2 linked regions of the Homo sapiens genome follow. The protein of the gene in region 1 interacts with the protein of each later gene in a biochemical or structural test. Each region holds a gene or a part of one and is shown in the gene's direction. Other genes may lie near its edges.

The links. The genes of interacting proteins can lie anywhere in the genome.
Region 2: the proteins of TPST1 (region 1) and GOLPH3L form a complex in vitro, tested with the Homo sapiens proteins (one study listed by BioGRID).

The regions. Positions count from the first base shown.
Region 1 is NC_000007.14:66,285,332-66,292,361, forward strand, and holds part of TPST1 (protein-tyrosine sulfotransferase 1), read left to right. Parts: intron 1-1,179; coding exon 1,180-1,378; intron 1,379-7,030. UniProt on the Homo sapiens protein: Catalyzes the O-sulfation of tyrosine residues within acidic motifs of polypeptides, using 3'-phosphoadenylyl sulfate (PAPS) as cosubstrate.
Region 2 is NC_000001.11:150,687,153-150,694,182, reverse strand, and holds part of GOLPH3L (Golgi phosphoprotein 3-like), read left to right. Parts: intron 1-7,030. UniProt on the Homo sapiens protein: Phosphatidylinositol-4-phosphate-binding protein that may antagonize the action of GOLPH3 which is required for the process of vesicle budding at the Golgi and anterograde transport to the plasma membrane.

The DNA.
Region 1 (7,030 bases):
AATGTCAAGCAAAGAACATTAGGGATGAAGCAATACAGGGAGAATAGATAGAGTGAAGGGAGCAGTGGGTTAAGTGGAGTCCTGGAGAAATATTTGAAAAGGGAGAAAGGAATGTGGCTCCTGAGGTAGGAGGGAAACCTGGAGCAGGTAGCCCCACAGAAGCCCAGGGAAGAGGCATTGTTTTTCTATTATTTTGGAAGCAGATCCCCTTTAGGAGACTCCTCATCAGATAATGATTATTCACTAAGAGGTTATATTCTTAATTAAAAGGGCCTTTACCTTTTCTTAGAATACTATGTTTGAATAACTTTTTATGTATTACGATATAAAAGTCTCTTTTAAGCATTTCTGTTTTATAGTCATTTGGCCAAAATCTAATTCAGATCCAGCTTAAATCCAAATGTCATTTGATGCTACATTTTATCCTGAGGTTGCTAGTTATTTAGTCAAATATAGTGAGTATAATCACTACAGGCTTAGAGTAAATTTCCATGTCAAGAGGTAGAACACATTTATTCTGTAATATTGAATCCTGTAATATTGAAAATCAAAAACAGCCCTTTTTTTTCTTCTGTAGAAAATAAGATTTTTAAGGAAGGCAGCAGGAAAATAGAACAAGTGAATATTTTACGTTCTTAGTGGTTTATGGTTGGCAGTTTTCCCCCAACATTTTGTTACGAAAAGTTAAAATGTACAGAAGAATTGAAAGACTTATACCCACCAGCTAGATTGTGCCATTAACATGTTGCTGTATTTACTTTATCACTGTCCATCTCTCTGACCATCTATTTGTCCCTCTTTCCATCCATCAGTCTGTCTTTTTTTTGGTAAGCATTTCAAGTAAGTTGACTGACAATTTTTCTAAGCAGCTGTATCTTTATTTTGTTACTGTTTTTTTCCTGGATGTTGTAATTACAGTGTCAAGACATTTAATAATGCACATGTTTCAGCTAACCCTTTTCCCAATTTCTAGAAATCTGAGATTGCCAATAATCCCTGTCAATCTTAAATTATTTTTTAATTCTGGTAAATAGTGTCAAACCTGATTAGTGCCCTCTTTCTCAATTGTTTTGTAATCCAGACAACTGTTAGTCATTAAAACATAATTTATAGTGGTTTTAAAGCATGATTTTCTAAAAAATTTTAAATAAATATTTATTCATATTATGTTGTTTTCAGAGTGGAGAGATCTACAGACCAAGTAATCAAGCCAGTCAATGTAGGAGCTCTATCAAAATGGGTTGGGAAGATACCGCCAGATGTTTTACAAGACATGGCAGTGATTGCTCCTATGCTTGCCAAGCTTGGATATGACCCATATGCCAACCCACCTAACTACGGAAAACCTGATCCCAAAATTATTGAAAACACTCGAAGGGTAAGTGAGATTTTTTAAAGCAACTGAGAAAACTAGATTTTGAATTTGGGATCTGAATACGTTTTTTTCTTATTTTATTTCTTGCTATTTAATGATCAGAAAAATATATTTTTTTTTTTTTTCATTTATTTTTATTTTATTTTATTTTATTTTTTTTATTATACTCTAAGTTTTAGGGTACATGTGCACATTGTGCAGGTTAGTTACATATGTATACATGTGCCATGCTGGTGCGCTGCACCCACTAATGTGTCATCTAGCATTAGGTATATCTCCCAATACTATCCCTCCCCCCTCCCCCAACCCCACCACAGTCCCCAGAGTGTGATATTCCCCTTCCTGTGTCCATGTGATCTCATTGTTCAATTCCCACCTATGAGTGAGAATATGCGGTGTTTGGTTTTTTGTTCTTGCAATAGTTTACTGAGAATGATGGTTTCCAGTTTCATCCATGTCCCTACAAAGGATATGAACTCATCATTTTTTATGGCTGCATAGTATTCCATGGTGTATATGTGCCACATTTTCTTAATCCAGTCTATCATTGTTGGACATTTGGGTTGGTTCCAAGTCTTTGCTATTGTGAATAGTGCCGCAATAAACATACGTGTGCATGTGTCTTTATAGCAGCATGATTTATACTCATTTGGGTATATACCCAGTAATGGGATGGCTGGGTCAAATGGTATTTCTAGTTCTAGATCCCTGAGGAATCGCCACACTGACTTCCACAATGGTTGAACTAGTTTACAGTCCCACCAACAGTGTAAAAGTGTTCCTATTTCTCCGCATCCTCTCCAGCACCTGTTGTTTCCTGACTTTTTAATGATTGCCATTCTACCTGGTGTGAGATGATATCTCATAGTGGTTTTGATTTGCATTTCTCTGATGGCCAGTGATGATGAGCATTTCTTCATGGTTTTTTGGCTGCATAAATGTCTTCTTTTGAGAAGTGTCTGTTCATGTCCTTCGCCCACTTTTTGATGGGGTTGTTTGTTTTTTTCTTGTAAATTTGTTTGAGTTCATTGTAGATTCTGGATATTAGCCCTTTGTCAGATGAGTAGGATGCGAAAATTTTCTCCCATGTTGTAGGTTGCCTGTTCACTCTGATGGTAGTTTCTTTTGCTGTGCAGAAGCTCTTTAGTTTAATTAGATCCCATTTGTCAATTTTGTCTTTTGTTGCCATTGCTTTTGGTGTTTTGGACATGAAGTCCTTGCCCACGCCTATGTCCTGAATGGTAATGCCTAGGTTTTCTTCTAGGGTTTTTATGGTTTTAGGTTTAACGTTTAAATCTTTAATCCATCTTGAATTGATTTTTGTATAAGGTGTAAGGAAGGGATCCAGTTTCAGCTTTCTACATATGGCTAGCCAGTTTTCCCAGCACCATTTATTAAATAGGGAATCCTTTCCCCATTGCTTGTTTTTCTCAGGTTTGTCAAAGATCAGATAGTTGTAGATATGCGGCATTATTTCTGAGGGCTCTGTTCTGTTCCATTGATCTATATCTCTGTTTTGGTACCAGTACCATGCTGTTTTGGTTACTGTAGCCTTGTAGTATAGTTTGAAGTCAGGTAGTGTGATGCCTCCAGCTTTGTTCTTTTGGCTTAGGATTGACTTGGCAATGCGGGCTCTTTTTTGGTTCCATATGAACTTTAAAGTAGTTTTTTCCAATTCTGTGAAGAAAGTCATTGGTAGCTTGATGGGGATGGCATTGAATCTGTAAATTACCTTGGGCAGTATGGCCATTTTCACGATATTGATTCTTCCTACCCATGAGCATGGAATGTTCTTCCATTTGTTTGTGTCCTCTTTTATTTCCTTGAGCAGTGGTTTGTAGTTCTCCTTGAAGAGGTCCTTCACATCCCTTGTAAGTTGGATTCCTAGGTATTTTATTCTCTTTGAAGCAATTGTGAATGGGAGTTCACCCATGATTTGGCTCTCTGTTTGTCTGTTGTTGGTGTATAAGAATGCTTGTGATTTTTGTACATTGATTTTGTATCCTGAGACTTTGCTGAAGTTGCTTATCAGCTTAAGGAGATTTTGGGCTGAGACGATGGGGTTTTCTAGATAAACAATCATGTCGTCTGCAAACAGGGACAATTTGACTTCCTCTTTTCCTAATTGAATACCCTTTATTTCCTTCTCCTGCCTGATTGCCCTGGCCAGAACTTCCAACACTATGTTGAATAGGAGCAGTGAGAGAGGGCATCCCTGTCTTGTGCCAGTTTTCAAAGGGAATGCTTCCAGTTTTTGCCCATTCAGTATGATATTGGCTGTGGGTTTGTCATAGATAGCTCTTATTATTTTGAGATACGTCCCATCAATACCTAATTTATTGAGAGTTTTTAGCATGAAGGGTTGTTGAATTTTGTCAAAGGCCTTTTCTGCATCTATTGAGATAATCATGTGGTTTTTGTCTTTGGCTCTGTTTATATGCTGGATTACATTTATTGATTTGTGTATATTGAACCAGCCTTGCATCCCAGGGATGAAGCCCACCTGATCATGGTGGATAAGCTTTTTGATGTGCTGCTGGATTCAGTTTGCCAGTATTTTATTGAGGATTTTTGCATCAATGTTCATCAAGGATATTGGTCTAAAATTCTCTTTTTTGGTTGTGTCTCTGCCTGGCTTTGGTATCAGAATGATGCTGGCCTCATAAAATGAGTTAGGGAGGATTCCCTCTTTTTCTATTGATTGGAATAGTTTCAGAAGGAATGGTACCAGTTCCTCCTTGTACCTCTGGTAGAATTCGGCTGTGAATCCATCTGGTCCTGGACTCTTTTTGGTTGGTAAACTATTGATTATTGCCACAATTTCAGAGCCTGTTATTGGTCTATTCAGAGATTCAACTTCTTCCTGGTTTAGTCTTGGGAGAGTGTATGTGTCGAGGAATGTATCCATTTCTTCTAGATTTTCTAGTTTATTTGCGTAGAGGTGTTTGTAGTATTCTCTGATGGTAGTTTGTATTTCTGTGGGATCGGTGGTGATATCCCCTTTATCATTTTTTATTGTGTCTATTTGATTCTTCTCTCTTTTTTTCTTTATTAGTCTTGCTAGCGGTCTATCAATTTTGTTGATCCTTTCAAAAAACCAGCTCCTGGATTCATTGATTTTTTGAAGGGTTTTTTGTGTCTCTATTTCCTTCAGTTCTGCTCTGATTTTAGTTATTTCTTGCCTTCTGCTAGCTTTTGAATGTGTTTGCTCTTGCTTTTCTAGTTCTTTTAATTGTGATGTTAGGGTGTCAATTTTGGATCTTTCCTGCTTTCTCTTGTAGGCATTTAGTGCTATAAATTTCCCTCTACACACTGCTTTGAATGCGTCCCAGAGATTCTGGTATGTGGTGTCTTTGTTCTCGTTGGTTTCAAAGAACATCTTTATTTCTGCCTTCATTTCGTTATGTACCCAGTAGTCATTCAGGAGCAGGTTGTTCAGTTTCCATGTAGTTGAGCGGCTTTGAGTGAGATTCTTAATCCTGAGTTCTAGTTTGATTGCACTGTGGTCTGAGAGACAGTTTGTTATAATTTCTGTTCTTTTACATTTGCTGAGGAGAGCTTTACTTCCAACTATGTGGTCAATTTTGGAATAGGTGTGGTGTGGTGCTGAAAAAAATGTATATTCTGTTGATTTGGGGTGGAGAGTTCTGTAGATGTCTATTAGGTCTGCTTGGTGCAGAGCTGAGTTCAATTCCTGGGTATCCTTGTTGACTTTCTGTCTCGTTGATCTGTCTAATATTGACAGTGGGGTGTTAAAGTCTTCCATTATTAATGTGTGGGAGTCTAAGTCTCTTTGTAGGTCACTGAGGACTTGCTTTATGAATCTGGGTGCTCCTGTATTGGGTGCATAAATATTTAGGATAGTTAGCTCCTCTTGTTGAATTGATCCCTTTACCATTATGTAATGGCCTTCTTTGTCTCTTTTGATCTTTGTTGGTTTAAAGTCTGTTTTATCAGAGACTAGGATTGCAACCCCTGCCTTTTTTTGTTTTCCATTTGCTTGGTAGATCTTCCTCCATCCTTTTATTTTGAGCCTATGTGTGTCTCTGCACGTGAGATGGGTTTCCTGAATACAGCACACTGATGGGTCTTGACTCTTTATCCACCTTGCCAGTCTGTGTCTTTTAATTGCAGAATTTAGTCCATTTATATTTAAAGTTAATATTGTTATGTGTGAATTTGATCCTGTCATTATGATGTTAGCTGGTGATTTTGCTCATTAGTTGATGCAGTTTCTTCCTAGTCTCGATGGTCTTTACATTTTGGCATGATTTTGCAGCGGCTGGTACCGGTTGTTCCTTTCCATGTTTAGCGCTTCCTTCAGGAGCTCTTTTAGGGCAGGCCTGGTGGTGACAAAATCTCTCAGCATTTGCTTGTCTATAAAGTATTTTATTTCTCCTTCACTTATGAAGCTTAGTTTGGCTGGATATGAAATTCTGGGTTGAAAATTCTTTTCTTTAAGAATGTTGAATATTGGCCCCCACTCTCTTCTGGCTTGTAGGGTTTCTGCCGAGAGATCCGCTGTTAGTCTGATGGGCTTTCCTTTGAGGGTAACCCGACCTTTCTCTCTGGCTGCCCTTAACATTTTTTCCTTCATTTCAACTTTGGTGAATCTGACAATTATGTGTCTTGGAGTTGCTCTTCTCGAGGAGTATCTTTGTGGCGTTCTCTGTATTTCCTGAATCTGAACGTTGGCCTGCCTTGCTAGATTGGGGAAGTTCTCCTGGATAATATCCTGCAGAGTGTTTTCCAACTTGGTTCCATTCTCCACATCACTTTCAGGTACACCAATCAGACGTAGATTTGGTCTTTTCACATAGTCCCATATTTCTTGGAGGCTTTGCTCATTTCTTTTTATTCTTTTTTCTCTAAACTTCCCTTCTCGCTTCATTTCATTCATTTCATCTTCCATTGCTGATACCCTTTCTTCCAGTTGATCGCATCGGCTCCTGAGGCTTCTGCATTCTTCACGTAGTTCTCGAGCCTTGGTTTTCAGCTCCATCAGCTCCTTTAAGCACTTCTCTGTATTGGTTATTCTAGTTATACATTCTTCTAAATTTTTTTCAAAGTTTTCAACTTCTTTGCCTTTGGTTTGAATGTCCTCCCGTAGCTCAGAGTAATTTGATCGTCTGAAGCCTTCTTCTCTCAGCTCGTCAAAATCATTCTCCATCCAGCTTTGTTCTGTTGCTGGTGAGGAACTGCGTTCCTTTGGAGGAGGAGAGGCGCTCTGCGTTTTAGAGTTTCCAGTTTTTCTGTTCTGTTTTTTCCCCATCTTTGTGGTTTTATCTACTTTTGGTCTTTGATGATGGTGATGTACAGATGGGTTTTCGGTGTAGATGTCCTTTCTGGTTGTTAGTTTTCCTTCTAACAGACAGGACCCTCAGCTGCAGGTCTGTTGGAATACACTGCCGTGTGAGGTGTCAGTGTGCCCCTGCTGGGGGGTGCCTCCCAGTTAGGCTGCTCGGGGGTCAGGGGTCAGGGACCCACTTGAGGAGGCAGTCTGCCCGTTCTCAGATCTCCAGCTGCGTGCTGGGAGAACCACTGCTCTCTTCAAAGCTGTCAGACAGGGACACTTAAGTCTGCAGAGGTTACTGCTGTCTTTTTGTTTGTCTGTGCCCTGCCCCCAGAGGTGGAGCCTACAGAGGCAGGCAGGCC
Region 2 (7,030 bases), on another chromosome or scaffold:
CTTTATAAGGCAAATATCAACAGTTGGATTACGCGGTGGCTCACGCCTGTAATCCCAGCACTTTGGGGAGCCGAGGTGAGTGAATCACTTGAGGCCAGGAGTTCAAGACTAGCCTGGCCAACATGGTGAAACCCCGTCTCTACTAAAAATAAAAAATTAGCCATGTGTGGCGGCGGGTGCCTGTAATCCCAGGTACTCGGGAGGCTGAGGCAGGAGAATCACTTGAACCTGGGAGGCGGAGGTTGCAATGAGCCAAGATTGCACCACTGCACTCCAGCCTGGATGACAGAGTGAGACCCTGCCTCAAAAAAAAAAAAAAAAAAAAAAAAAAAAAATATATATATATATATATATATATATATACACACACACACACACACACACATACATAAACAATTGAGGATTATTTTAATTTTTGAAAATTTTTAAAAATAATTTTAGCTTTTCTCTTTTTTCCCTAAATGTCTCCTTATTTAATGGAACATTTATTTTATAGTACAGTTAGTCTTAAGGTCCTGAGTCTTGTGATATAACCAGAAATTTCCCTGGCTTCTCTACTAGTATACATCATCATCCTTCATTTGTAACTTTTTGCTGTGTTTTCTCATCACACTATTCCCTCATGAAGAAGTTACGAAGGTAACATTTTAAACAATCTGCTTTCTTTCCAGGAAAGCCTTAAATAACCGCCCCCCCTCGCCCACCGCCTGCAAGAAAAGAAAGAGGTATATTTATTACTGGCCTCAGTTTTGAAAACATACAAAATTAGAATGTTATTTTAGATTTTAAAAGTACTAAATTTGGCTTTGATAATTATCCTTAGCTAGAAGTGAATTGGCTGCATACAAGTAGTAACAGCTCTTCTTTTCTACATAATTCTTCGACTTGGAAATACCATTGTTGTTTAGATTTTGCCTTTCATTTATTTACTATTTTCCTTTTTACTTTTTTTCTTGTTAAATTACCAACTTGAACAAAATTTACAGACCAGTTATAGTCTGTGTATTGTTAAAACTAATATTAGAGACATGCTTATGTGTACCTGGCCAAGATGTAGGTATATCAGAAATTCTTGCCCGGAAATATATTTTCCTGTTTGCTGAGAAGTTGATGAGCCTTCAGTTTTATAAAAGGCAAATAAACGAAAAGGCAAAACCAGCTCTCCAAGAGAATGTCAGAATAGGACTGAAGATTAGGTGATATAAATACTCTTTTGAGACGTTTACACATTACCTAGGAAACAGTCACTGACTGTATAAAAAGAGGATATAGAACTAAAAGCTATTTGGTTTGTTTTAGCTTTGAATAGGAATGATTAATTTCCTGCTGACCTTATGCACTGGAATTTTTGCTTTTGGGCTTGTCTTCATGTGTTTATAATGGTTAATATAAATTTTAGGAAATAGAATAAAAAATAAAGCAGCTCATTAAGAGCTATGGCCATGGTGAGTACTTAACATATTGGTGAGATACTGTACAAAATAAGCAGATGGCTGGATGCAATGGCTAATTCCTGTAATCCTAACACTTGGGAGGCCAAGGTAAGAGGATTGCTTGGGCCCAGGAGTTCAAGACCAGCCTGGGCAACATGGTGAGACACCATCTCTACAAAAAATTTAAAACAAAAAAATTAGCTGGACATGGTGGCACATGCCTGTAGTCCTAGCTACTCAGGAGGCTGAGTCAAGAGGATGGCTTAAGCCTCGGAGGTCGAGGCTTCAGTGAACCAGGATTGTGTCACTGCACTCCAGCCTGAACAACAGAGCAAGGCCTCAAAAAATAATAAATAATAGCACATAACAATTAACCACCTTTTGAATTGCTCTAATTTTATTTTTGAGGATAGTTAACAAATATTTAGCTTTCATTTGGCTCAGGAAGAATAAAAGACAATAAATCCTTAGGTGTAAATGAATAGAAGAGGTCAAACTTTGTGATTTATTTAAATAGTAGTAGTTACAAAAGGCCAGTTACATAACTATCTCTAAAAATATTAAATTGATTCCCAACTGTACTTATTTTTTTCTTATCTCTCAAACTATCAATAGATTCATTTAATCAATATTTAATGTGATTGAGGACACCCATTATGTGCTTAGGATTATGCTAAATATTAATACTAAGGTAAATATAAAATAGTATAGTATATGGTCCCTGCCTTCAAGAAACTTGCATTCTAGCTGGAGAGACAAAAAGATACATACTTTTTAAAAGTTAAGTAACCCGAAGGTCCATCAACAGCAGAATGGATAAAAATGAATCATCAAAAAAAAAAAAGAGTCATCCATTTGTTTAAATGAGTATAAATATGTTTTCTATACAGAATGAAAATGAACATTGTTATACAACATGTATATTTCTCACATTATGTTCAATAAAAAAAGCCAAACACAAAAATATACATACTGTATGATTCCATTTATATGAAACTCAAAAAACTATTGTATTTGAGGTTGCATATTTAGGTGGTACAATTATAAACAAAATCAAGCCAGGAATTACTATAGTTTTTAGAATAGTGATTATCTTTTTGTAAGGGATAGGGGAAGGAAAAGGGTGTTAGTAATTAGGAAGGAAAATGGAGAGGATTTCTAGATAGTAACAATTTTCTGTTTCTGGACCTAGAGGAAGTTTCATAGTTTTGTTTTTGTTTTTGTTTTTGTTTTTAAGACAGAGTCTTGCTCTGTCACCCAGGTTGGAGTATAGTGGCACCATCTTGGCTCACTGCAACCTGCGCCTCCCGAGTTCAAGCAATTCTCCTGTCTCAATCTCCTGAGTAGCTGGGATTACAGGCACCCGCCACCATGCCTGGCTAATTTTTGTATTTTTAGTAGAGATGGGGTTTCACCATATTGGTCAGGCTGGTCTTGAACTCCTGACCTCTCAGGCGACCCACCCAACTTGGCCTCCCAAAGTGCTGGGATTATAGGTGTGGCCTCCCAAAGTGCTGGGATTACAGGCGTAAACTACTGCTCCCGGCCTTTTTTATTTATTTATTTATTTTTGATACGGAGTCTTGCTCTGTCCCTCCTGGCTAATTTTTGTATTCTTAGTAGGGAAGGGTTTTCAGCATGTTAGCCAGGCTAGTCTTGAACTCCTGATCTCAAGTGATCCACCTGCCTTGGCCTCCCAAAGTGCTGGGATTACAAGCGTGAGCCACTGCACCTGGGCCATAGATCTTCACTTTGGAATAATTAAGCTTTTTACTTTGTTTTGTTTATTCTTCTGTGTGTACATTATATTTCACAATGCAAAATATTTTTTTTAAAGTAAACAACAATAAAAAGCAAGTTTTTGCATGTTAGAATGAGCCAAGGGAGTTAGAGAGAGGAGAAACCATCATGAGATAGAGTAATCCGGGGAAGAATAGAAAAAGGCAGTAAAACAAGCCATGCCTTTAAAAATGGGAGGATTAACATGAATGGAGAAAAGGAAACACGTTCTGGATGAGGGAACCTGAGTGAGCAAAGGTATCATGAGCTTGATGAGTTTGGGAGATAACTGTGAGTAGGCCAGTATGACTGAAGTAGGTGGAGAACAATGGGATTCAAAATCAGTAAATTCGATTTGGACCAGATTATAGATTTTGTTACCAGGCAGAGACTTTTAGACTCTTTCCTTTAGGGAAAAGAGAATCAGCCTAATGAAAACAGCAAAGCCCATTTCATTTTTGTGTCCAAATTAAGGGCTTAATAACATTTTTATGTTCTTTGTGAGTATGTTTTAATGTGTATATAATTGCTTGTTTTTACATGGTTTGGGATTTGTGACAAGTCAAAAAAGGAAAAAATCCTAAATGTTAAATTTTGTGTCCCAAACTCCCAAACTTTTACTGGAGAGTTCCCTAAGATCCTCTGTTTAGAACCCAGTATTATCATTTTTTTAGAAACTATGTGTCTTTCAAGCAGGCACGGTGGCTCCTGTCTGTAATCCCAGCACTTTGGGAGACAGAAGGATTGCCTGAGGCCAGGAATTCTAGACCAACCTGGGCAACATAGTGAGACCTCATCTCTACAAAAAATATAAAAATTAGCCTGGCATGGTGTCACATACCTGCAGTTTCAGCTACTTGGGAGATTGAGGCGAGAGGATTGCTTGAGCCCAGGAGTTCAAGGCTGGAGTGAGCTGTGTTTGTGCCACTGTACTCCAACCTGGGTGACAGAGTGAGACCCTGTCTTAAAAGAAAAAAAAAAATTCTTCTGAGGGGTAACTACCACAGACTGGTTTTAAAATATTAAGCATCTGGCCAGACGCAGTGGCTCACATCTATAATCCCAGCACTTTGGGAGGTTTGAGGCGGGCAAATCACTTGAGGCCAGGAGTTCGAGACCAGCCTGGCCAACATGGTGAAACCCCATCTCTACTAAAGGAAAAAAAAAATTAGCTGGGTGTGGTGGCATGCACCTGTAATCCTAGCTATGCTGATGGGAGAATCTCTTGAACCCAAGAGGCAGAGGCTGCAATGAGCCAAGGTCACACTACTGCACTCTAGCCTGGGTGACAGAGTAAGACTGCCTCAAAAAATATAAACTAATTAAATTAAATATTAAGTATCATTGTCTTATGAAAACAATCAAGAAATTTAAATATAATTTGAAGAGTATAACCTTTCAAGCACAGTTAAAATTAGATACTATCTCAGTTCAATAACACTGACCTCAACTGAGAAAGTAAACATTGAGCACAAGCCTGACCAAAATAAAATAGGTTTATCTCCTGTTGAAATCAGGAATCTGCTTATTTGTTATTATTGCCTTTGGTAAGAGTTTTGATATAGATTATTAACTCATGAACAGTGTTTTAATTGACTTGCTAATGTATAAAACTTTTCATTTATTAGAATCGTTTCTTAAGTTACCTGTAAGGGGAGTAAGCCAATTACTGCTTTTGACTCCTAGTGGTCTTTTCATTTCTCATCTATTTAATTTGTGGATAATGTTTTTCAACCATCCTCTCTTTCTTGGAAAGCTTTCTCCTAGTAATGCCATTTATTGAATACTTACTACTTACTGTGAAAGAAAAGCTTTTCATCATATTTCTCATGTCACTGTGGTAAAAATTGGCAAGAAGTATTATCCATTGGAAATATGGCAATACATTTTCACTTATTTGTTTAATCACCAAAAATTTTATTGAATGACTCATATGTCATAGAAAGAGAGAACAAAAACAATTGTCCCTGCTTTTGAGGTCAATTTATGGTTTAGTGGCATAGGGATGGTTGGAGATGCTGGGAGTAGAAGCCAGAAAGTCAGCAGACCATTTCAGAACAATGTGATATGTGTATAAGTGTGTTCTGAGTAGGAAGGAAACACAGAGGAAAAGCACGTAAATCAGATGGGTGGTGGGAAGGAGCAGTAGGAGAGGGAAGAAGAGATGTTGGGAAAGACTTACAGGAGGTGATAACTCTTTTTTTTGTTGTTTGTTTGTTTGAGATAGAATCTCATTCTGTCACCCAGGCTGCAAAGCAGTGGCGTGATCTTGGCTCACTGCAACCTCCACCTCCCGGATTCAAGCGATTCTGCTTCCTCAGCCTCCCAAGTAGCTGGTATTACATGCACCTGCCACCATCCCCGGCTAATTTTTGTATTTTTGTAGAGACGGGGTTTCACCATGTTGGCCAGGCTGGTCTTGAATTCCTGACCTCAGGTGATCCAACTGCCTTGGCCTCCCAAAGTGCTGGGATTACAGGTGTGAGCCACTGCGCCCCGCCAGGAGGTAATAACTCTTAACTGGAATAAGAGTGAGTTAGTCTGTAAAGAGACAGGTTCTAGGAAAAAAGAACATCAACTGGATGTTCCTAATAATTTCAGTGATGTGCAACTGGAATAACCACAGATGTCTGAAAGCATCCCATCTCCTTTTAATGAACTCCAGTGTTTTAAAACTGAAGTATGAGAGCTGAACATCCAGTTACATGCTTTATTGTTTAAGTTTTCTAAAATTGTGAAATACAGTGTATCCAGAAAATTGTATAAAGCACATATATACAGTTTAACAAGTAGTTTGAAAGCCAACAGTCATGTAATCACCAATAGAACAATATCAGCATCCTGGAAGGCTTCTCTTATGCCTGCCCCTAATCACATGCTGCCCACTTCCCTGTAGTTTTGACATGTATGTATATCCCTAAACAATATATTTTAGTTTTGCCTGTTTTTAAACTCTATTTTATTGGGTTAATATTTTAATGTATTCTTTTGATCAATATAATGTTTGTGAGATTTGTCCATGTTGTTGCATATAGTTTAATCCAGTTCATCCTGATTAATATTTCATTACATGAATATACCACTATTCATTCTATGGGTTAATGCACATTCAAGAGTTCATTATGAACAGTGCTGCTAAAATTCTCCTGGTACTTGTCAGTTATCTTTTTTCAAACAATCTACTGTTATCCACTATACGTATGGGAATTATACGTATGAAATTCATATGTATTTTTAATTATAAAGTATGTTAATGCTACGCTTTTTCAAGCTGCTGATGATCCTCCATCAAGTATAGTTCATCTTTATTAGCAATAGGAGATTAGAAGTAAAAGCTTCTTTAAAGCTGGTAAAAAAAATTCACTAATCAAAAAGTTTTTTTTTGTTTTTTTTTTGAGACAGAGTTTCGCTCTTGTTACCTAAGCTAGAGTGTAGTGGCACGATCTTGGCTCACCGCAACCTCTGCCTCCCGCGTTCAATTCTCCTGTGTCAGCCTCCCAAGTAGCTGGGATTACAGGCATGCACCACCACGCCCGGCTAATTTTTTGTATTTTTAGTAGAAACGGGGTTTTACCACGTTAGCCAGGCTGGTGTCGAACTCCTGACCTCAGGTGATCCGCCTGCCTCGACCTCCCAAAGTGCTGGGATTACAGATGTGAGCCACCACGCCCAGCCCAAAAAGGTTTTTAAAATCAGTCACAGTCAGTCAGTGTCCAACTTGTTGATTATTGGCTATGAATGAAGAAAATTGGCCGCCTTAAAAAGTGACTCAATCCTAAAGCATTTTATTATAATTAAAATATTAATAGCAGGCCGAG